Linked DNA regions of Homo sapiens. The protein of the gene in region 1 interacts with the protein of each later gene in a pairwise test. Each region holds a gene or a part of one and is shown in the gene's direction. Other genes may lie near its edges.

Evidence for each region.
Region 2: the proteins of MVP (region 1) and EPHX2 interact in a two-hybrid assay, tested with the Homo sapiens proteins (one large-scale study listed by BioGRID and IntAct).
Region 3: the proteins of MVP (region 1) and GIT2 interact in a two-hybrid assay, tested with the Homo sapiens proteins (one large-scale study listed by BioGRID and IntAct).
Region 4: the proteins of MVP (region 1) and MRTFA interact in a two-hybrid assay, tested with the Homo sapiens proteins (one large-scale study listed by BioGRID).

What each region holds. Positions count from the first base shown.
Region 1 is NC_000016.10:29,829,065-29,834,012, forward strand, and holds part of MVP (major vault protein), read left to right. Parts: intron 1-1,409; exon of another isoform or gene 1,410-1,450; 5' UTR 1,451-1,485; coding exon 1,486-1,610; intron 1,611-1,813; coding exon 1,814-2,009; intron 2,010-4,668; coding exon 4,669-4,792; intron 4,793-4,870; coding exon 4,871-4,948. UniProt on the Homo sapiens protein: Required for normal vault structure. Vaults are multi-subunit structures that may act as scaffolds for proteins involved in signal transduction. Vaults may also play a role in nucleo-cytoplasmic transport.
Region 2 is NC_000008.11:27,488,733-27,494,404, forward strand, and holds the start of EPHX2 (bifunctional epoxide hydrolase 2), read left to right. Parts: upstream 1-2,410; 5' UTR 2,411-2,476; coding exon 2,477-2,577; intron 2,578-5,672. UniProt on the Homo sapiens protein: Bifunctional enzyme. The C-terminal domain has epoxide hydrolase activity and acts on epoxides (alkene oxides, oxiranes) and arene oxides. Plays a role in xenobiotic metabolism by degrading potentially toxic epoxides.
Region 3 is NC_000012.12:109,929,907-109,934,854, reverse strand, and holds part of GIT2 (ARF GTPase-activating protein GIT2), read left to right. Parts: intron 1-769; coding exon 770-833; intron 834-1,664; coding exon 1,665-1,877; 3' UTR 1,878-4,948. UniProt on the Homo sapiens protein: GTPase-activating protein for ADP ribosylation factor family members, including ARF1.
Region 4 is NC_000022.11:40,425,366-40,430,313, reverse strand, and holds part of MRTFA (myocardin-related transcription factor A), read left to right. Parts: intron 1-546; coding exon 547-708; intron 709-4,948. UniProt on the Homo sapiens protein: Transcription coactivator that associates with the serum response factor (SRF) transcription factor to control expression of genes regulating the cytoskeleton during development, morphogenesis and cell migration.

The sequences.
Region 1 (4,948 bases):
AGGAACCACTTTTTTTTTTTTTTTTTTGAGATGGAGTCTCACTCTGCCTCTCATAATGCTGGGATTACAGGCATGAGCCACTGCACCTGTCCTGGCCAGACATTTTTGAGGCCACCACCAGACAAAAGAGGCTCCTCATCGGCCAGGTGTGATGGCTCGCCTATAATCCCAGCACTTTGGGAGGCAGAGGCAAGAGGATTGCTTGAGGCCAGGAATTCGAGACCAGCCTAGGCAACATAATGAGACCTCATCTCTCCAAAAAAAAAAATTAGCTAGACATGGTGGCATGTACCTGTAGTCTCAGCTACCCAGGAGGCTGAGGCATGGCTTTTGTGAGCTATGATTGCACCACTGCACTCCAGCCTGGGTGACAGAGTAAGACTCCGTCTCAAAAAAAAAAAAAAAAAAAAAAAAGTCTGACCTGAGTCTCTTAAGGATGAGGCTCTGGAGCACCTAGTAAACTTGGTCCCATTTGTGTGACTCAAAGGGACATGTCCAAAGTCCAAAGTGCTGGGGGCAGGGGTGGGGCTTAGGTAGGGCATGTGACATTCCTGAACAGGCCAAGCACTGGGTGAAACTACTCAGGATTCAGAAGCAGGTGGGATGGGTGGGTGGAACATGATAATCATCCCCCTTCTCCTTCCTTTCCACCCTACCCTTGCTCACAACTGCAGGAGCTGAGGATGGGAGAGAACTGGGGACGAGGGGGCCAGAGTGATTTGCAGTGTTAGTAATGCAGCTGGTTCTATGGAAGGCTCAGTTCCATCTGGGATCCCTTTATGAGCAGTGGACTAGGTCTTCACATTCAGCCCAGGATTACTAAAGCATAGGAAAGAGGCAGGGAACATAGACACAGCTCATGTAAACATTCCTTTTGTTTATGGCCGAATCCTAGCCACTGGACTACCTGAGGCATACAGATATTCTTTGGCTATGGGCTGACATTTGAATACAGCTGGGGCCTCAGGATTCTCTGAAATAAAGGGCTGCCTCCCTCTGGAGGAGCCAGGCAGCTCCTCAGAGCAGCTGCCCATTGCGTGCTGGACAAGGCCATGTCACCACCTCCATGGCTCCCCAGTTTCCCAGCTTGCTGTATCTCTCCACCGTAAGAGACTGGGAGCACCTTGATCTGAAGCTCTTTGCAGTGCCGGTGGCAGTGTAGGGGGAAGTAGTTGATGGGAGTGAGGGAAAGGAATTGGCAAGGAACCCTGGGCCTCTGTGGCTCACTGCATCAAGCAGTTCTTGGCAAAGGTAAGGTCAGGATGGGCTGTGTCGTCTTGGGTGGGGTGAAGACAGGGAGCAGTGGGCATGCAGATGCGGACAGGGAAGGGTGCAGTGGCCTGGCTGGAGGAGGTAGGGCCGTATCCCACCCAGAGTCTGTCACCAGATTCATGCCTGCCCCACCCCAGGCTCCCCAGGTTCATCCTGTGTCGTCTCCCCCACCTACCAGTCATCTTCTTGTGAGCCCTGGGCTTAGGAGTCACCATGGCAACTGAAGAGTTCATCATCCGCATCCCCCCATACCACTATATCCATGTGCTGGACCAGAACAGCAACGTGTCCCGTGTGGAGGTCGGGCCAAAGACCTACATCCGGCAGGACAATGAGAGGTGGGTGTGGGGGCTGGGCTGTGGGGGATCCTTGGGGATGTGGGGGCCTGTTTGGCTGGCATGATGGTCCTTATCCTCCTCCCTCTTCCCAAGCAGGAGTGGCCCTCGCTTGGGCGATAGAGAGGTTTCTCTCTCATTTGGTGTCCTCTTTGGTAGTGGAGACCTGGTCCCAGGTCCTCACACCTCTTCTCATCTTCCTGCAGGGTACTGTTTGCCCCCATGCGCATGGTGACCGTCCCCCCACGTCACTACTGCACAGTGGCCAACCCTGTGTCTCGGGATGCCCAGGGCTTGGTGCTGTTTGATGTCACAGGGCAAGTTCGGCTTCGCCACGCTGACCTCGAGATCCGGCTGGCCCAGGACCCCTTCCCCCTGTACCCAGGGGAGGTGCTGGAAAAGGTACCTGGTTTCCTCACTCCCTATGCCCCACCCTACCTGTCCTCCACCTGCCTTGGGCTCTATACTGCTGCCTTCTTCTTCTTTTTTTCTTTTCTTTTTTGAGGCAGAGTTTCACTCTTGTCGCCCAGGCTGGAGTGCAGTGGCATAATCTCGGCTCACTGGAAGCTCCACCTGGGTTCAAGTGATTTTCCTGCCTCAGCTTCCTCAGTAGCTGGGATTACAGGCACCCGCCACCACGCCCGGCTAATTTTTGTATTTTTAGTAGAGACAGGGTTTCACCATGTTGGCCAGTCTGATCTCAAACTCCCGACCCCAGGTGATCCACCTGCCTCGGCCTCCCAAAGTGCTGGGATTACAGGCATGAGCCACTGTTCCCGGCCTGTACCGAGTTCTAAAGGGAAAACAAACCAGGGCAGTGGGAGGGGTGGGGAGAGACACTTGCTGGCTCTCACCAAGGGTGGAATTGACTCACTGTACCTCCACTCACCTCCAGCCACCCCCATCCTCCACACATGCCCCAAACACACCTGCCTCTTTTCTGAGAACTGTTGGCCCATCTCACCTTCCCAGGCTCCAGAGCCTACCAGAAGTGCCCAGCCAGTCTGGCATTAAATGACATGTGCCAAGGTTAAGCAGTTCATTCACCCGGTGCCAGACACTGGTGGGCAGTGCCAAAGCAGCAGTGACAAGCCCAGGCCCCAGGCTGTGCCTGTTCTAGGAGAAGCCATCACAGGCCTGAACCTACAGCCAGGCTCTTGTCCCCGTTGGCCTCAGGCCTGGGCCTGAGCAGGTGGGTGTCCCACCTTCATTCCTTTACCTGTTCTTCCACCTTTACCTTCTGGCCATTTAATGGTTTTGGGTTTTTTGTTTGTTTGTTTGTTTGTTTTTAATAGAGACGGGGTTTCACCGTGTTAGCCAGGATGGTCTTGATCTCCTGACCTCATGATCCGCCCGCCTCGGCCTCCCAAAGTGCTGGGATTACAGGCATGAGCCACCGTGTCCAGCCCCATTTAATGGTTTTCTTACTGACTTTACTAACCAGTGCTGCTTGATCCTGAAAGCATAATAGCAGAACATGGGGAACTTTTAGAGACATTCATGTCCACTTAGGTGCAGACAGTTTGGGGGAAGAAGTGTGTGTGTAGAGAGAAAATGAAGAATGATTAAGACAATAACCCTTAAGGAATCCAAGTGAAAAGTATATAGGGATTCTTGTACCTTTTTTTTTTTTTTTTTTTTTTTGAGATGGAGTCTCACTCTGTTGCCCAGGCTGGAGTACAGTGGCATAATCTCGGCTAACTGGAAGCTCTGCCTCCCAGGTTCACGCAATTCTCCTGCCTCAGCCTCCCGAGTAGCTGGGACTACAGGCGCCCACCACCACACCCGGCTAACTTTTTGTGTTTTTAGTAGAGATGGGGTTTCACCGTGTTAGCCAGGGTGGTCTCGATCTCCTGACGTCATGATCCACCTGCCTTGGCCTCCCAAAGTGCTGGGATTACAGGCGTGAGCCACCGCGCCTGGCCTTTTTTTTTTTTTTTTTTTCTGGATCTCCCCCTGTTGCCTAGACGAGAGTGCAGTGGGGTGATCATAGCTCACTGCAGCCTCAACCTCCTGGGCTCAAACGATCCTTCCACCTCATTCTCCCAAAATGCTGGGATTGCAGGTGTGAGCCACCAAGCCCTGCCTAAGCTTTCATTTTAAATATGTTCAGCCGGGCACAGTGGCTCACGCCTGTAATCCCAGCACTTTGGGAGGCCAAGGTAGGCAGATCACTTGAGGTCAGGAGTTTGAGACCAGGCTGGCCAACATGGCGAAAACCCATCTCTACTAAACATACAACAATTAGCCAGGCGTGGTGGCATGCGCCTGTAATCCCAGCTACTTGGGAGGCTGAGGCATGAGAATTACTTGAACCTGGGAGGCGGAGATTGCAGTGAGCTGAGATTGCGCCACTGCGCTCCAGCCTGGGTGACAGAGCAAGACTCTGTCTCAAAAAAAAAAAAAAAAATTAGCTGGGGGTGGTGACACACCTGTAATCCCAGCCACTCAGGAGGCTGAGACAGAAGGATCACATGAGCCTGGGAGATTGAGACTGTTGTGAGCCATGGTTGTACCACTGCAGTCCAGCCTGGATGACATAGGAAGACCCCATCTCCAAAAATAAAAAAAAGCCAGCTCTTCCTTTGAGCCCCAGTTTCAGTTCAAAGGGCCTTCTCTAACTTCTCCTTCATCTGAACTCCTGAGACAGGGTCTTGCTCTGCTGCCCAGGCTGAAGTGCAGTGGTGCAGTCATAGCTCACTGAAGCCTTAACCTCCTGGGCTCAAGTGATCCTCCCACCTCAGCCTCCCGAGTAGCTGGGACTACAGGTGTGCGCCGCCACCATGCCTGGCTACACTTTTTTTTTTTTTTTTTTTTTTTAGAGATGGGATCTTGCTATGTTGCCCAGGCTGGTTCTTGAATGTCTGAGGTCAAGCAATCCTCCTACCTCAGTCTCCCAAAGTTCTGGGATGACAGGTGTGAGCCACTGTGCCCGGCCTCCACCCCAGTCTTATTTCAGGACATACAGAGATGGATGTTGTGGACCCGCCTCCAGAGCATCAGGCTTGGCCCTGGGGTCACAGCACTGATGGTTCTGTGTCTCCACCTTCTTCCCCACTAGGACATCACACCCCTGCAGGTGGTTCTGCCCAACACTGCCCTCCATCTAAAGGCGCTGCTTGATTTTGAGGATAAAGATGGAGACAAGGTGGTGGCAGGAGATGAGTGGCTTTTCGAGGGACCTGGTAAGTTCTGTCTCCATAGGGCTCCCTGCCTTCCTGTCATAGCCCTGATACCTTCTGACCATCACCTTCCCTCCCCAGGCACGTACATCCCCCGGAAGGAAGTGGAGGTCGTGGAGATCATTCAGGCCACCATCATCAGGCAGAACCAGGCTCTGC
Region 2 (5,672 bases), on another chromosome or scaffold:
GGCTTTATGAAATCTAGTTCTGTAGGTATGTCGTTCCTCTACACTTTACTGCTTGTATAAATATACTTACGTATTCATAAGCAATACTGTGCTAGATGCAGAATTCAGATGCAGGCAACAGAAATCACTGTAGTTATTTTAAATAGAAACAGAAGAAAGGGATTTAAGATGAGAGACTGCAAGCCTACACAATCTTTGAACGGAATGGAGGAGTGAGCTCCAGACTGAGCCTTTAGGAAGGACTCCCAGAAAACACCACCATAGAACTAGAAGCTGCTATCTCTGCCTCAATCAGCAGGCCACCGCTAGAAACACGAACATATGGTTTGGCTGGGAGCCAAGGATCTGGAAGCAACTCCGTGGTCTCGGGACTGAGCCACTGAGTCAATGGGGATGCCAGTTTGTAAGATAGGGAACACACTAGGAGGAACAGGCGTGGGAAGTAGAAATGCAGAGAGAGTTCTGTTTTAGCCATGATAAATTTGAGATGCCTGTTAGACACTCAAGAGAAGATGTTCAGTAAGAAGTTGGATATTGACGTTGAGTAAGATGTTGAGTAAGAAGTTGGCAAGTCTGGAGCCCAAAGGAAACTCTAAGTTGGAGATTTAATTTCTTTCTTTTTTTTTTTTGGAGGTAGAGTCTTGCTGTGTCACCCAGGCTGGATGGAGTGCAGTGGCACAATCATGGCTCACTGCAGCCTCCACTTCCTGGGCTAAAGTGATCGTCCCACCTCAGCCTCCTGAATAGCAGAGACTACTGGCATGCACCACCATGCCTAGCTAATATTTTATTTTTATTTTTTATAGAGAGAATGTCTTGCTTTGTTGCCCAGGCTTGTCTCAAACTCCTGGCCTCAAGCAATTCTCCCACCTCAGCCCCAAAGTGCTGGGATTACAGGTGTGTGCCACCATGCCCAATCTGGAGATTTAACAGGTTTCATACTATATAGGTCAGGCTGCAATTTTCTTTCTATTTTTTAAAATTCAATTATACCTTTGAGATCAACTAACTTCATGAGAAACTAGCTTGCTGTACTCCCTTCTCTGCCTATCTTTCAGTCTTCAAATCCAGAGTAATCCAGTTTCTACCATAAAGGGCCCACAAAAAGTGTTCTGAAACATCCGGTGTCATCCAAGTCCAAAATTGGACAGCTTTTTTTTCAGTTCTTCCTGTAACATTTGGCAGTGTTGGCCACTCTCTGCTTCTTTGGCAAGAATCTCAGAAAACACTAATAACTGCTCCAGGCAGGAGCCTGGAAGAGGTTACCAAGCTAGAGAAGGAAGCAACAGCATAGCTTGCTAAGGGCAAACAGCCCAGAGGAAACCCACGGCTCTGGTCAATCCTGTTGTTGATTGCTAGATCCAGAGACTGTTGTAGACCTCCCAGTTACAGTGAGGTATCTGACAACCCCTCACAAGGTTCTTGAAGCTCCGTGGTGGAGGGTATCTTGGATAAATCCACAGAGACACATTCAAGAGTAAATTCTCCACTGTTGGAGACCTCACTCACTCTGTTTGGTCTCCACCAAAGACACGGTTTTTAATTCATGGAGCTGCACTACAACAGCTCAAGAACTCCCAGCCAAAGTTTTAGTTTTTCTAGGAACATAAACGAGCCAATAGTGTGGAAATCGGTGATTAAAAACAAACCTCGCACATTTTAAGACAGAATTATTACAAGTAGCATGTACAAAAGGAAAATAATAGCCTACATTTAGTTCTTCTAAGCTTCATTCCACAAGAGATTGAAATCGAAGTATTCTGGGCTGGCACACGATAGCTGGAACATCATATTTTATTCTAGAAACACATTTGCCTTGGCAAAGAAGAGCGTGCCTAGAGGAGTGGTCAGGATAGTGAGGGATCTGTGATCCTTCGTTCTGAATCTAGAAAAGTCACTGGATATGCCCCTCCCCCGCCCCCCAACACGGTCTTATGTTCTGAATGTAGAAGTCACTGGATGTGCTGACACACACACACACACACACACACACACACACACACACACACACACACACACACAGAGTCTGTGGCCTCTTTCCCAGGCATTCCAAGTCCAGCAAGTTCGCAGGGAGCTGTCAGTCCGTCCAGGAAGGCCCGGGCCTGGGTTTGCCTCTTCAAGCAGCTACTGCAGGGGCGTGGGGAGGGGGCATAAGAGACTTTGGACTTTCCTTTGAGACAGTAGAAAGCGTTACATCCAGAGGCGAGATTCTAGCCTGGGGTCCCCGCCTTCCCGGCCTCCTCTTCCTCTCCCTCTGACTCCCTTTCCTGTGCCCCTCCCCCTGCCTCTTTCCCGGCCAGAGTCCAGCCTTAACCCGGGCAGAGGGCGGAGTCCCGTTAAGGGGGTGTGGGGAGGAGGCGGGGCCAGGGCAGGGGCGGGGCAGAGCCGGGCCAAGCTGGGCGGGTCATGCGCCCTGGCCTTCGCGCATCTCCCAGGTTAGCTGCGTGTCCGGGTGCTAGGCTGCAGACCCGCCGCCATGACGCTGCGCGCGGCCGTCTTCGACCTTGACGGGGTGCTGGCGCTGCCAGCGGTGTTCGGCGTCCTCGGCCGCACGGAGGAGGCCCTGGCGCTGCCCAGGTAAGGGGGCCCAGCGCCGCCGCCGCAGTGGGTCGGGGCCTCAGGAGGCAGACCGCGCTGGGCTTGCAGCCCAGCTTTCAGATTGCTCCTGTGCCGGAGCCCTGCGAATCATGCGAATCATGAAACTGAAGACCTGGCCCTGAAGTCCCAGTGCATATGAGGAGATCCGTTGTCTTTCTAAATGTTCATAATTAAACGTTGCCAAGGTCTCCAAAATTGCTTTCTGTGAACTTTTCCAAAAGGGAGAGGAGTTACTCATGGAGCTTTGTGCTTCTGCTGCCTCCTGTCTAATGGGGTGGCGCTTAAAGATGCGAGCCGAGATTCAGGAGAGAAGAAAGTTCTCTCCCCAGGTGTGGGTTGCATGCTTACTTGTGTAATAGCAAACTGCAGCAACCGCCCAAAGCCACATCACTGGGAAATGGTAGATGGGGTGTGCAGAGTGAGAGCTCAGGGACTTGGGAAAACACCTGTTCTACTACATGAAAAAACCACCCCACCAGAATCTGAAGCTATTTATACAATATGGTTTCAGCTATGGAAAAAAGGTACATGCAGAAAAGTGCCTGAAAGAAATAGGCCAAAGTACATCAAATGAGATTAGGAATAATGTAATGATTTTCTTTCTCTCTCTCTTTTTTTTGTGTTTTTTTTTTTTGTAGTTTCCAACTTCTAAATTTATAAACAATGTATTATTCCCACATTCAGAAAGGAGAGAAGTATACTTATTTATAAAGTGAAAAAGAAGGCCAGGCATGGAAGCCATTGTTCATATCCTCCTTTTACATATGAGGAAACTGAGGCACAGAAAGAAACCAGCTGTCCAAATCACATAGCTGTTAAAGAGCAGAGCCAGAAATCCAACCCCAGTAGTCCATGTCCGGAGCCTTTGCTTTTAATATAGTAAGGAAGATGAGATGGCAAGTAGCTTGAGGGAAAGGCATGTAATCTCTGTGCTTTGGGAAGCTAAGGTGGGAGGATCACTTGAGGCTGAGAGTTCAAGACCAGCCTGGGTGAAAGAGCAAGACCCTGTCTCTCCAAAAATAAAAATAAAATTAGCTAGACATTAGTGCATGCATGTAGCCCCAGCTACTTGGGAGGCTAAGGCAGAAGGATTGCCTGAGCCCAGGAGTTGGAGGCTATAGTTGTGTCCAGAGTTGGTTCCTGTCGGTGGGTTCGTGGTCTTGCTGACTTCAAGAATGGAGCTGTGGACCTTCGCAGTGAGTGTTACACTCGTAAAGATGGCGCAGACCCAAAGAGTGAGTGATAGCAAGGTTTATCGTGAACAGCGAAAGCACAAAGCTTCCACAGCATGGAAGGGGACCCCAGCAGGTTGCCGCTACTGGCTGGGGTGGCCAGCTTTTATTCCCTTATTGTCCTCTCCCATGTTCCATTTCTGTCCTATCAGAGTGCCCTTTTTTCAATCCTCCCCGTGATTGGCTACTTTTAGAATGCTGCTGATTGTGCGTTTTACAGAGCGCTGATTGGTGCATTTTACAATTCTCTTGTAAGACAGGAAAGTTCCCCAAGTCCCCACTCGACCTAGGAAGTCCAGCTGGCCTCACCTCTCAATCCTCCCTCATAACAGGACACCCCACCTGCTACTGGGAACTGGGTGATGACCACTCTAGCTACTTCCTGCTGGATAGGGGCAAAGAAGGGGCCCTGCCGTTGTAGTGTCCTCCAGAGGGGAACTCTCTAGGCCAGTCAAAGGGCCAGTGGGTCAGTCTAGCAGTCCTCGGTAGAAGTTGTGAGTTAAGCTCATTTGGGGTTCCATTTGTAAGACCATCTGTAGCTTGATGGCCTTGATCCTGGAGGAAACAAATTTGAGGAGGAGGTTAAAAATACAGGGACTGAAGGTGAGTAATAGCAAGATGGCTGTCACGGGACCTAGAAAGGGGAGAAGCCAAGTCACCCAACTCCAGAGGTTGGTATAAGAATTTGAAAGGTGTTGTCTGGTTTCAGAAGCCTTTTCCTGTAAATGCCAGGCAGCATCCTGTACTATCCCTGACTGGTTAGTTTAAAAACAACACTCCTCCCCTAAGAAGGTGCAAAGTCCTCCTTTCTCAGCAGTGAGGAGGTCTAGACCTTAGCGGTTTTGGAGAGTCACTGTTGCCAAATAGTCTATTTGGGATTGTAGAGTAAGGATAGATTTATTTATTGCAAACTGTCTGAGAAATCCTTTGAGAGTGTATGGTAGTAGGATAATGAAGTAGTTAAACTGGCTATTCTGGTTCCTGTAGCAGTGGGCATTCCTAGCCCTATAAGTAGGGGTATTAGTTGTATGGTCCTGGGCTGACAGACTTGAGCTTTGAGGGGCACTGATAGGGTCTGATTTCCTGTGGCATTGTTAGTGTTGGGACTTAGGAGAAGGTGCAGGTGCCTGTCCAGCTGGTGGGAGGCAGATATAGGTTGAAGTTCCACATAAGAAGAATATGCCTTGGCTGGGTAGAATAAACTGGTTGTGTATGTTAAAAAGGTGTGTGAGTTTGTTTTCATTTTCCCACACTCCTAGAGTACTTGCCAAGGTAGCTCTGGTGAGCAGCTGGAAAGGGTGTTGGGAGCAGACTGAGTGGCTCCCTGTGCTCTATTTTCCCATTGGAGAAAAAACCGTTTTGTATCTACTAGGAACCATCCAAGAGAGTAATTGAAAGAGGGGATAAGAAGACATACACTAGTGGTGGGGGCGCTGCTGCAGGGGGTCCAGGGGTGAATGGTCATGCAGGGAGTATGTTTGCCATTACAAAACCCAGACTGTTTGTTAAACAGGGAGGAGGTGATGATTTTGGGGGGCCCTGAGAAGCAGACAAGCCATCTGAATGGAGGTGTTTGGGTGACTCAGGAGTTACTATGATCAGTTGGGGCTTGAAGTTATAGGGTGTAATTACACTGATGGGATAGTAGGTGCCCCAGGGGCAGGCCTGATAACAGGTTGTGTTGGATGCATAAAAGGGCTTGGAAAGTTAAGATGGTATTCGGTATTCGTGGTCACAAGGTCTTGTATGGGCTTTTCCTGAGGATTGTGGCCTCCAGGCACAGTGAAGGTGATATTGTATCTCTAGTGCCCTGGAAACTCCCTGAGTTACCATGGCTTTAAA
Region 3 (4,948 bases), on another chromosome or scaffold:
ATCCGCCCGCTTTGGCCTCCCAAAGTGCTGGGATTACAGGCGTGAGCCACTGCGCCCGGCCGACAGTTTTAATTATAATAGTTTTGAAACTAGACTTGTTACAAAGGTGAAGTGCATAAGTTGCTTATGACAATCTATTCAGAAGCCAACTTCATGGTTTAAAAAATGGGGAAAGGGCTGGACACCGTGGCTCACACCTGTAACCCCAGCACTTTGGAGGCTGAGGCAAGAGATTCACTTGAATCCAGGAGTTCAACACAAGGCTGGGCGACATAGTGGGACTCCTCTACAAAAAAATATTTAAAAATCAGCCAGGCATGGCGGTGCATGCCTGAAGTTCCAGCTACTTGAGAGACTCCAATTCTAATTTTAAGGAATTTTTTCAGTCCTTTATTTTTCACTTCTGTGGCCTTTTGCATGGAAATCCTTTCTCTTTCTAGAAATTGGGACGATGAAACACATGAGAAGTAAATGACTGACGTGAGGAGGGGTGAATTATGTTTCTGTACTGTTGTGTGGCCTCACCTGACCAAGAGTGTATGTTGCCATATTTCATACCTGGAGACTTTTCATCAGATTGAACTTTTAGGAAGCAATGAGAGTCCTGCTTTATAACCATGTGCCCTCTGGTGGTGTGGGATGCACGGCTGACTGCAGCCCTAGCCCCTTCATGAAGGGAATGTAAACAGAATCTGTTCTAGCACTTGAGTCCTCTTTGCCTCCGAATCATTTTTACTGTCATTGAATAACTTCTTCAATATTCTTGCAGTTATATTCCCTGCTCAGAGAGGATACACGTAGCTGTTACAGAAATGGCAGCATTATTCCCCAAAGTAAGTCACTTCCTACTCACTTGGTTTAAATCCTTTTAAATGAACAGCAAGAAATTTCTTTATGACCTATATATTACATTAGCTTTTTTGTAGCACATGCAGTTTTAAAATATGCAGTCGAGGCCGGGTGTGGTGGCTCACGCCTGTAACCCCAGCACTTTGGGAGGCCGAGACAGGCAGATCACCTGAGGTCGGGAGTTCGAGGCCAGCCTGACCAACATGGAGAGACCCTGTCTCTACTAAAAATACAAAATTAGTCAGGCGTGGTGGTGCATGCCTGTAATCCCAGCTACTCAGGAGGCTGAAGCAGGAGAATCGCTTGAACCCAGGAGGCGGAGGTTGCAGTGAGTCAAGATCGTGCCATTGCGCTCCAGCCTGGGCAACAAGAGTGAAACTCAAGTCTCAAAAAAAAGTAAAATAAAATAAAATATGCAGTCGTATAGAGCTTTGAAATATTTTTGTTCTGCATGAATGTTGATTTAATAAGACAAGGATATACAAGTCGTGCTAAAAGGCACATTTTAAAATTTATAGGATTTTCTGGAATATTTTACCCACATGGATTAATATTTTTCAAAAACTACTTCAAAATACCACATACTACTAAAATTACCCTGCATGCACTTTGACCTTTGAATCAGAATATTTCAGCATCTCTTACGCTGTGGGCTGCAAAGCTTGGAGTGTGTGAAGCACCCCTTTGAGAAAGGGCAGGACCAAACCGCCTTTCACTCTGGGGAGCAGCTTGGTTTGCTTTAGAAGAATGTTTGTCCCCTGCTTTTGGATGTCTGCCCTGCAGTTCAGGGTAAACGGCTGTCTTTTTCCTTTTAGAAACCCAAGTCTGATATGGTGAGGACTTCCCTTCGTTTACTGACGTCCAGTGCCTACCGACTGCAGTCAGAGTGCAAGAAGACCCTCCCAGGGGACCCCGGCTCACCCACAGACGTTCAGCTGGTCACGCAGCAGGTCATCCAGTGTGCGTACGACATCGCCAAGGCTGCCAAGCAGCTGGTTACCATCACCACCAAAGAGAACAACAACTGACAAGGGCAGGGCACCGCCTCCTCTGTTTTCTAGGCTTTATAAAGTCCAATTTCAAATTCAGACGCAGAACTCTTCAGATTTCTACAAAAAGAAACATTTAATGACGGTTTAAAACTTTTTAAAAGAAAACTCAGTATTATTTTTGCATGTTTTCTAACCAATTTTCAACTATTTAACCCACTTGCCTTATTTTGTGCCTATTTGCTGGTTTAGTTTCTGATGTTCGGTTGTGTTGTCAACAACTGTTGAGTTGATCACATACATCCAAAAGTATAGTTTCATTGTCTAAAGTTTGTGAAAACTTTTCCATCCCTTAAAACTCCCTGCCTATGGCTGAAACTATAAATGAAATTTTTCATAAAACATTTTCTTGAGAGAGTTCAGTTAAAAAAGAAAAAATCAGCGTCATTTGTTCCCTGCCAAGCATCGTGCAATAAGTGAATTTCCTGGCCTACTTCATAATCTCTAAGTTTGGGGTATCTCCAAGCATGTATGTAGAGAAAGGACTTTGCCGCTTTTTAAAACTAGTGTCACAGTCTCTCTTGGGAGGAAACAATGAATTGGTTCATTTCTTCTCAGTGTTTTACCCTGTTACATGTTCTGTTATTTAATGTTGTTATCTCAAGCTCCTATCTCTTGATGTTTTCTTGTCATCTTGAAGGCTCCATGGAATGAGATAAAGCATTGACCCACCACAGGACATCTCATGAAGCCATGTTCAGGGTAGGAGCTCCACGCACATCACCACCCATTGTCAGGTGCTCTCCCTCACCCCTGTAAGCCAGACAGTTTGTTCAAAACCTGCAGCAAAGAGAAGCATCAGTCTAACAAGCCAGAACTCATTTTGTGCCACCCATTTAGGTATCACTACCATGAACTATAGGGAAAAGAAATCACCTACTCCCTGACACTGTGTTGTACCCTTCATCCAAAAGTCAGCTTGCTTCTCTGACCACTTACAGCTTTCTCACATGAGTTGCTTCACATTTTTCATCATCTTTAAGGACTTCTTATAAGGAAAGATGTATCGTATCGCAGTCATCTGAGTTAGTTTCTCCTCCATCACCTCATGAGTACTTAAAAATTAGACATCAACTTTCAAGAGTTCCTTAGAGAGTGTGCTCTAGCTGGCTGCCTGCTACCCCAAAGCTCTGAAAGAGTAAGGTTGAAGTGCTGGAACATGCTCAGATTGTTTTTTAGTTACTCAAAAGCCCCTTCTTGTTCTGAATGTGAAAGCTCTTCCCGTTCCTGCTTACTGCAGCCATTCTGTGTGTGTGGTTCAGACCCTGGCCTAGGGCCGGTGATGTGGATGAGTGAAGGGAGCCAGGTACACGGCAGCAGGGCAGAGGAGACTATGGGGAGCCCACCGCCTACACAGTAGGGGCAGTAGCCCCCAGCTCCACGCCTGTTGCCATGTGGAAAAGTGGGCCTAGGGTGGCCACAGCTTTGATTTTTCAAGAGACAAGAAACCTAGATGTTTTTTGGTGCCATCTCTCCATTTATAAATGTTGGCAACCAATTTGAACACTTTCAGAGACCATGTGCAGGTGAGCTGTGTCCTCTAGGCTGCCAGCTCACAGCCCCCACCCCAGGGCCCTGTAAGCTGTGCAGTGTGAGGGCCTGGCTTCCCCGGACACACCTGGAGCAGCCTCTGAGTCTTACCCGTAATGGAGCCGGCCAACCCTGTGTGTTATGTTGCTGTCGCTCCTGTTTTTAACCATATGTTCTGTCCCATAGCAGTCATTCACACATGTGAAGAAGACACAAGAATCAAAGTACAAGTTGCCTCAATACATGCTAATAACTAAGCTTCTATTTTCACAGGACTGATCGATGCACACCTTTATAGCTTGACCATATGCTGTCATGAAAGTAGCACCCCGACGGTGCTTGCTTTACTAAGTCACCGTGTGTGGATGCTTTTGTCGCATTTTGCTTCACTGTGAGTAGCATGGGAAAAGGGTCCACGTCTCCAAAAGACTCTTCCACTTGTTTGTCCCACAGCCCTAAGTGCCACATTGCTGTTGGATGCTCCCGGGATGCCTTCTAGAAGGGGGCCTCCCACCTTAAGTTCAGGCGCCATCTGATAGCCTTTTCTGCAGGCTTCATGTCCTTAGCTGACCCTCCTTTATCTTGCAAACCCCTGCCCCTGCTGTCCCAGGGAGGACGGGCTTCTGTAGAGGCTTCTGGGAAATGAGCTGTCTGCAGGAGGTGAAGCAGTGTTTTCCTTGGAATGTTTGAGGACCTGCAATAGAAGATGTTGCCTTTATGGCCCTAGAGAAAGTCAAGGAACATGGGGACCAACAAAGCATTTCCAGTTGTAAGAATATGTCAGAAGAGTGCTCGGTTAGCCCACGGTGCCAAAACTCCAAACAAGTTCCCCGGTGGAATGACGTGGCCATTGGAGGGCTGCAGGTCGTCCTCTCTGTATGTGCCCCGCGCATTTCCTTGGCCTCATCTGAGATCTGGTGTCAGAGTTCTCTGCTCCTGTTGGCAAATCGCACCTTATCTGAACATTTGTTCCAGCCACCTTTTGCACATGGATTCCGTACCTTGCACTAGCAATGTCTACCTTCAGTAACGTCGTTCTTTTTCACCCTGTATTCTCAATGATCCCTTCCTCCCCATATGCCACCCTTCCCCCAAAGCTGATAGGGCAGAGGTGCACTTTATGAAACTGGCACTTGACTGAACAGAAGGAAACAGCTGTACCTCTAAGCTCCTTTCACAGAAATCGTCATCTGCCTTGGAATGCAAATAGTTCTTATTTGCCAAAGAACAGTGAATTGGGCCCAAAGATCAAACACAGCATTTCATGTAATCAGAATTCTAAACGCACAACTCGGGAGCTGTGCACGGCTTCTCAAGTGATTCAGTTGCAGAACCAAGAGCAAAACTCGCCTGTTTTTGTCCTCAATGGCACCCATGAGCTTTCCAATAGTATAGTTTTCTTTCTTTCCTTGTCCTGGTTGAAGGTAACGTGTTCCTAGAAAAGAAAATGCTGCATAGGAAAACTGAGATGCCTTTTATTCCAACGTGTTTGATCCCTGTCACTCATTATTCTGTACTTT
Region 4 (4,948 bases), on another chromosome or scaffold:
GTTTCACCATATTGATCAGGCTGGTCTCGAACTCCTGACCTCAGGTGATCCACATGCCTTGGCCTCCCAAAGTGCTGGGATTACAAGCGTGAGCCACCACGCCCAGCCGTTTGTCTAGTTTTGAGCTGTTTTTGGGGCTGGAAGAGAACTTTTCTAGTCTGAGTCTCACATTTTGCAGACAAAGGCACTAAAAACCAGAGCAGAGATGTGAATTGCCTCAGTAACACAGCAAGTTTGAGGGAGAGTGGAGACCATTCTGTCATCTGTTGCTGCTTCCATTCTGTAGCTCCACCTCAGAAAGTCTTCTGGGTTTGCCTCTGCCTGGTTATAATTGTGTGTGACTGTGCACTGCCTGGTCACAGTGGGAACCCCTTCTCTTGTCTTTGTGAAACTTCAAGACAGGCCACTCTTCTCTGCTTGGAATATGCTTACCGTTCTGACAGTCACTCCTCTTGCCCAGGAGGAAGGAGAGCTGCTCTGGAGTTCCCGGGGCAGAACCACGTCCACTCATATATCTTCCTGCACCCCTTTCTCTCCCATGGGCAGAGACCTCGGCTGAGCCATCCCTCCAGGCCAAGCAGCTGAAGCTGAAGAGAGCCAGACTAGCCGATGACCTCAATGAGAAGATTGCACAGAGGCCTGGCCCCATGGAGCTGGTGGAGAAGAACATCCTTCCTGTTGAGTCCAGCCTGAAGGAAGCCATCATTGGTGAGGAGGACCCAGCCACCCTGTGTGAGAGGCAGCTGAGATGCAGGAGGGGAGGGAGTGCCAGGCTGAAGCAGAATTGGGCTGAGGCTCTTGACTTCTTAATCTTTGACTTCCTGCTTAGCCTTGGGAGAACCAAGGCACAGAGTTTGAGAGCCTCATGCACAGGTTGTATGAACTTGGGATAGTGCCTGTTGCTTTAAGAAACAGGGACATACAACAATAAATAATAACAGAGGCCTTGCTCTGTTCACTTTCCATCTTTGTAAACTCGGGTTGCTTCCTCTTTCACAGAGTAGATAGATGTCAGGATCAGTGTGTGTGAACATGTGGAGATGCCAGGAATTAGAAATCTGTGTCATACTCTTTATTAGTGAAGTCTCTTCTTGGAGACTGGCCCTTTCCACGGATATTTCACTTAACAAATACTGATGGACCCAAACAGTGTGCTAGGTGCTAAGGCCACAGCCCCACAGGGCAGACCAAGTTCCTTTGTCCTTATGGAGCTCACGCCTAGGAGCAGGTAACAGGCAGGTGAATAGGCAGGATAGAGAAGCTGTGCTGGAGGGAGCACAGGGTACTTTGGAAACACAGAGGAGGGTCACCCAACCTGGTTGCATCAGGAAGGGTGCAGCTGTCAGAGGAGGTGACAGCCAAGCCTGGGGCTGAAGGATGAGTAGGAATTCATGAAAGCGTGTGGGAGAGGGTGGGACGAGGGAGGAGAGGACGGTGCTCCAGGCAGGGAGAACAACCCTAGGACCTGATGAGAAGGCACTGGAAGGGAGGGTGTCAAGATGAGAGGTGGGAGGCCAGGTCCTCAGTGATTTGGTAGTCTGAGGCGGGAGGATCACTTGAGCCCAGGAGTTTGAGACCAGCCTGGGCAACATGCAACATAGGGAGACTCATCTCTACAAAAAAAATCAAAAAATTAGCTGGGTGTGGTAACACACACCTGTAATCCCAGCTGCTCAGGAGGCTGAGGTGGGAAGATCGCTTGCGTCCAAGAGTTCAAGGCCGTAGTGAGCTATGATTGTGCCACTGCACTCTAGCCTGGGTGATAGAGTGAGACCCTGTCTCAAAAACAAAAACGAGGTGGGAGCAGTAAGCACAGTTCAGGACGTGCAGGGCCTCTTGGCACACTTGGGAGTTTGGACTTGATTCCTTTAGTGTAAAAGGGAAAAAGCCGTTTTTCTCTGTATTTACACTCAATACAGAATACTTCTGGTGTTGGTATTCTGGCATGGTATTACCCCACATACCAAGCAGTTCTCCAGTGGACACCAGCTGGGTGTCCTCCATTTCTTTTCAGATGCCATTTACCTGCAGATAGCGTCTGATCCCACAGGTTGAGGACTCAGTCCCACAAGACTTAGCCCCACTTCCCATGCTGGTCCCAAGCCCCAGGTTATTTTACATTTGCTTTTAACCAACTAGCTATAGATTGGGGTTCCCATACCCTCTCCTTGGGCTTGATAATTTGCTAGGATGGCTCACAGAACCTGGGGAAACACTTCACTTAACATTTCCTGGCTTATTGTAAAGGATGCAGAGGAACAGTCAGAGGGAGGGACGGATGGCACAGTGTCGTGGGGTGCCAGGGGGAATGGTGGTATTGGAACTTCCCTGCCCTCTCCTGGCCTTCACCCTCCCAGTAGCTAGAGAAACTCATCAAATCCTGTTATCCAAGAGTTTTTATAGAGCTTGATCTCAGAGCCCCCACTCTATGTCCTACATACCCACCCCCACTTTCCTGGAGGTTGGTGGATGGCGCTGATATTTCCAGTCCTCTAATCCTCTAATCACTTGGTGTCTCTGGTGACTGGCCCAATCCTTAGTCTCTCCCAGATTATCACATTAGCATAAGCTCAGGTGTTGTGGAAAGGGGCTTGTTATACATAACTGAAGATACTTCTGACCTTAAGGAAATTCCAAGGGTTTTAGCTGCTCTGTGATGAGAACTGGGGGACAAAAACCAAATATATTTATTATCCTACTCTTAGATTTTGGTGATAATTGGTACAGACATGTCTCCTTCGCTGCAGTGGGCCCAAGATCCGATCCCTGACAAGACAGCACCTGCCTGCCCCTCCTGAGGCAGCTGTGCCTTCAGAGAAAGAGGCTCAGGGTTTCCTCTAACATGAGTTTTAGTTTTGGGCAGAGGGGAAACACTGCAGCAGACCCCCAACGCATGCTGAATTAGGCTTTGGGCCCTGATTAGAGGTGACTGGCAGTTTCTAGGGCCTCCTCTGCATTGTAGCCACCCTACTGGAGGCTGGCCCACACTGGGCCCGGAGGAGCCCTTTCCCCATGTTGATACAGTAGCTCTTATAATTCACAGATTTTCCCTGGCGTTCATCCTGCCTCATCTCAGTGGTTTCCTCCGTGTATTCCTCAGCAGCCCCTAGTTATAGGCCAGTGTAGGGGCCAAGCCAGTTCTGGATGCTGCAGCCAGCCACAGTCTGATAAATGTGTGCTGAGACTCAGCAGTGTGCCAGGCCATGTGAAGTCCTGATGTCACAAAGATGAATAAAATATGACTTGTGCGCTAAAAGAATTCACGTAGGTCTGATGTGAGAAGACTAATGTATAAACAACTGATTTCTGAGTCTGGTTCCCAGTCAGATGCCAGTGCTGCCTGGTAGGAAGGCCATGGCCCTGTGACATTGTCTCTGAGTCACCTGCCTTGTGCGACTGCTTGCAGGATCACACACGATGATGGATGGTCCTTGGCGCCTAGAGAGACTCACACAATGGTTGCTGCTGTTGTCAGCAATAACACTCATTCTAGACCAGCTGGCAGCTGCTGTAATGGACAGTGTAACAATGGATATGTGTGTGTCAGTGCTGTGGGAGCTCAGCAGAGGGACTTCTCTCAGGGATGGGAACAGGTGTTGGTGGCCAGGGAAGTACCCACACTATAGCACGTCTGGGGGCAGCTTGGAGGCTGGGTCAGAGTTTGCCAAGTGGAAAAGGTACAGAGGTACAAGAGGGAACAGCATGGGCAGTGGCTTGGAGGCCTGGCTGAACACAGCTTGTTTGTTTGAGGAATTTGGCAATGGGGTGATTGTTGGGGACTTTAAGGAGCACAGAGCATTTGCCAGCAAAAACCAGATTGTACAGTTGAGTAGGAGAGAAGGAGGTGGTGATGGCAAATGTAGCTCATTTGCTCAATAGTTCTGTGGAGAAGGAAAGCAGAGGCAGGTGCTGGCTTAAGGAGGGATTTTCAGGCTGGATGCAATGGAGCAGGTTTTTGGGCTGAGAGGAAAGAGTCAAGGAGATGAGAGGATGGGCACCTTCAGAGGAAGAGGAGGGAGGAGGACGAGGAAATGGAACCCTGGCTGAGGTGGAGGTTTGGCTCAGGAGAGGCAAAGCTGGGAAGGAAGTTTGGCTCAGATGAGTGGGAAGGAAGCGGGCAGTGGGAGAAGGGGGAGCGGACCGTTCTGAGGCCTGAGAAAAGGGCTGATGGGGGTTGGGGTCTTCCCCACACATCTAAGCTCCCCATCCCACCCTTCCTCCAGGCCCCTCAGTTATCGTCAAGGTTCACTTTAAGTCCTGTCCTCCAGGAAGACTTCTCTGAGTCTCTCCTCAGTGTGCCCTTAGCTTCTGTGTTTTCTCTCTAGCAGAGCATTCACTGGGCTCCAAGGCAACTGGACCATAAACTCCTGGAGGGCAGGGACCCCATCTTTGTTCCCAGGATGTGACTGTGAGTGGAGAGAGAAATAGTCTGTAGTGACCCTGGCCTGTACCAGCCCTGGGTTTTCCACAGTACGGCCAGCAGCTTCCTTGGGTTGGACTAATCTGGGGGAAGCTACAGTTCCTCCACCCTTGCTCACCGTTGTCAGTACTGGCTGCCATGGGGCTGCTGTCCCAAATCAGATGCCGTTGCCGGAAGTAGGAGATTGTGGGGGAAATCTAGCCGTGTGTCTGGCATGAAGTACACATGGTCAGCAAGCCCTGTTCTGTGTGTTGCATACTTGCCCCTGCTGGGACAGATGAGGGGACAGAGGAGCAAGCCACCACCACAGTCGCCAGTAAGGAAGAAGCTCAGATGCATCCTTCCCAGGTCCTGAGGGAGGAGAGAGCCTCAGGTCCTGGCCCTGGCCCTGGAGGGCAAGAGCTCCTAGGAGAGCCACTGCAAGGACAAACCCAGCCTGAGCTGTTGCGCTTTGTTCCTCTTCCTTATCTGGGGTCTTCCCACACAGCATACTTCCCCAGGCTTGGGCGGCAGCTCACCCCTGCCTTC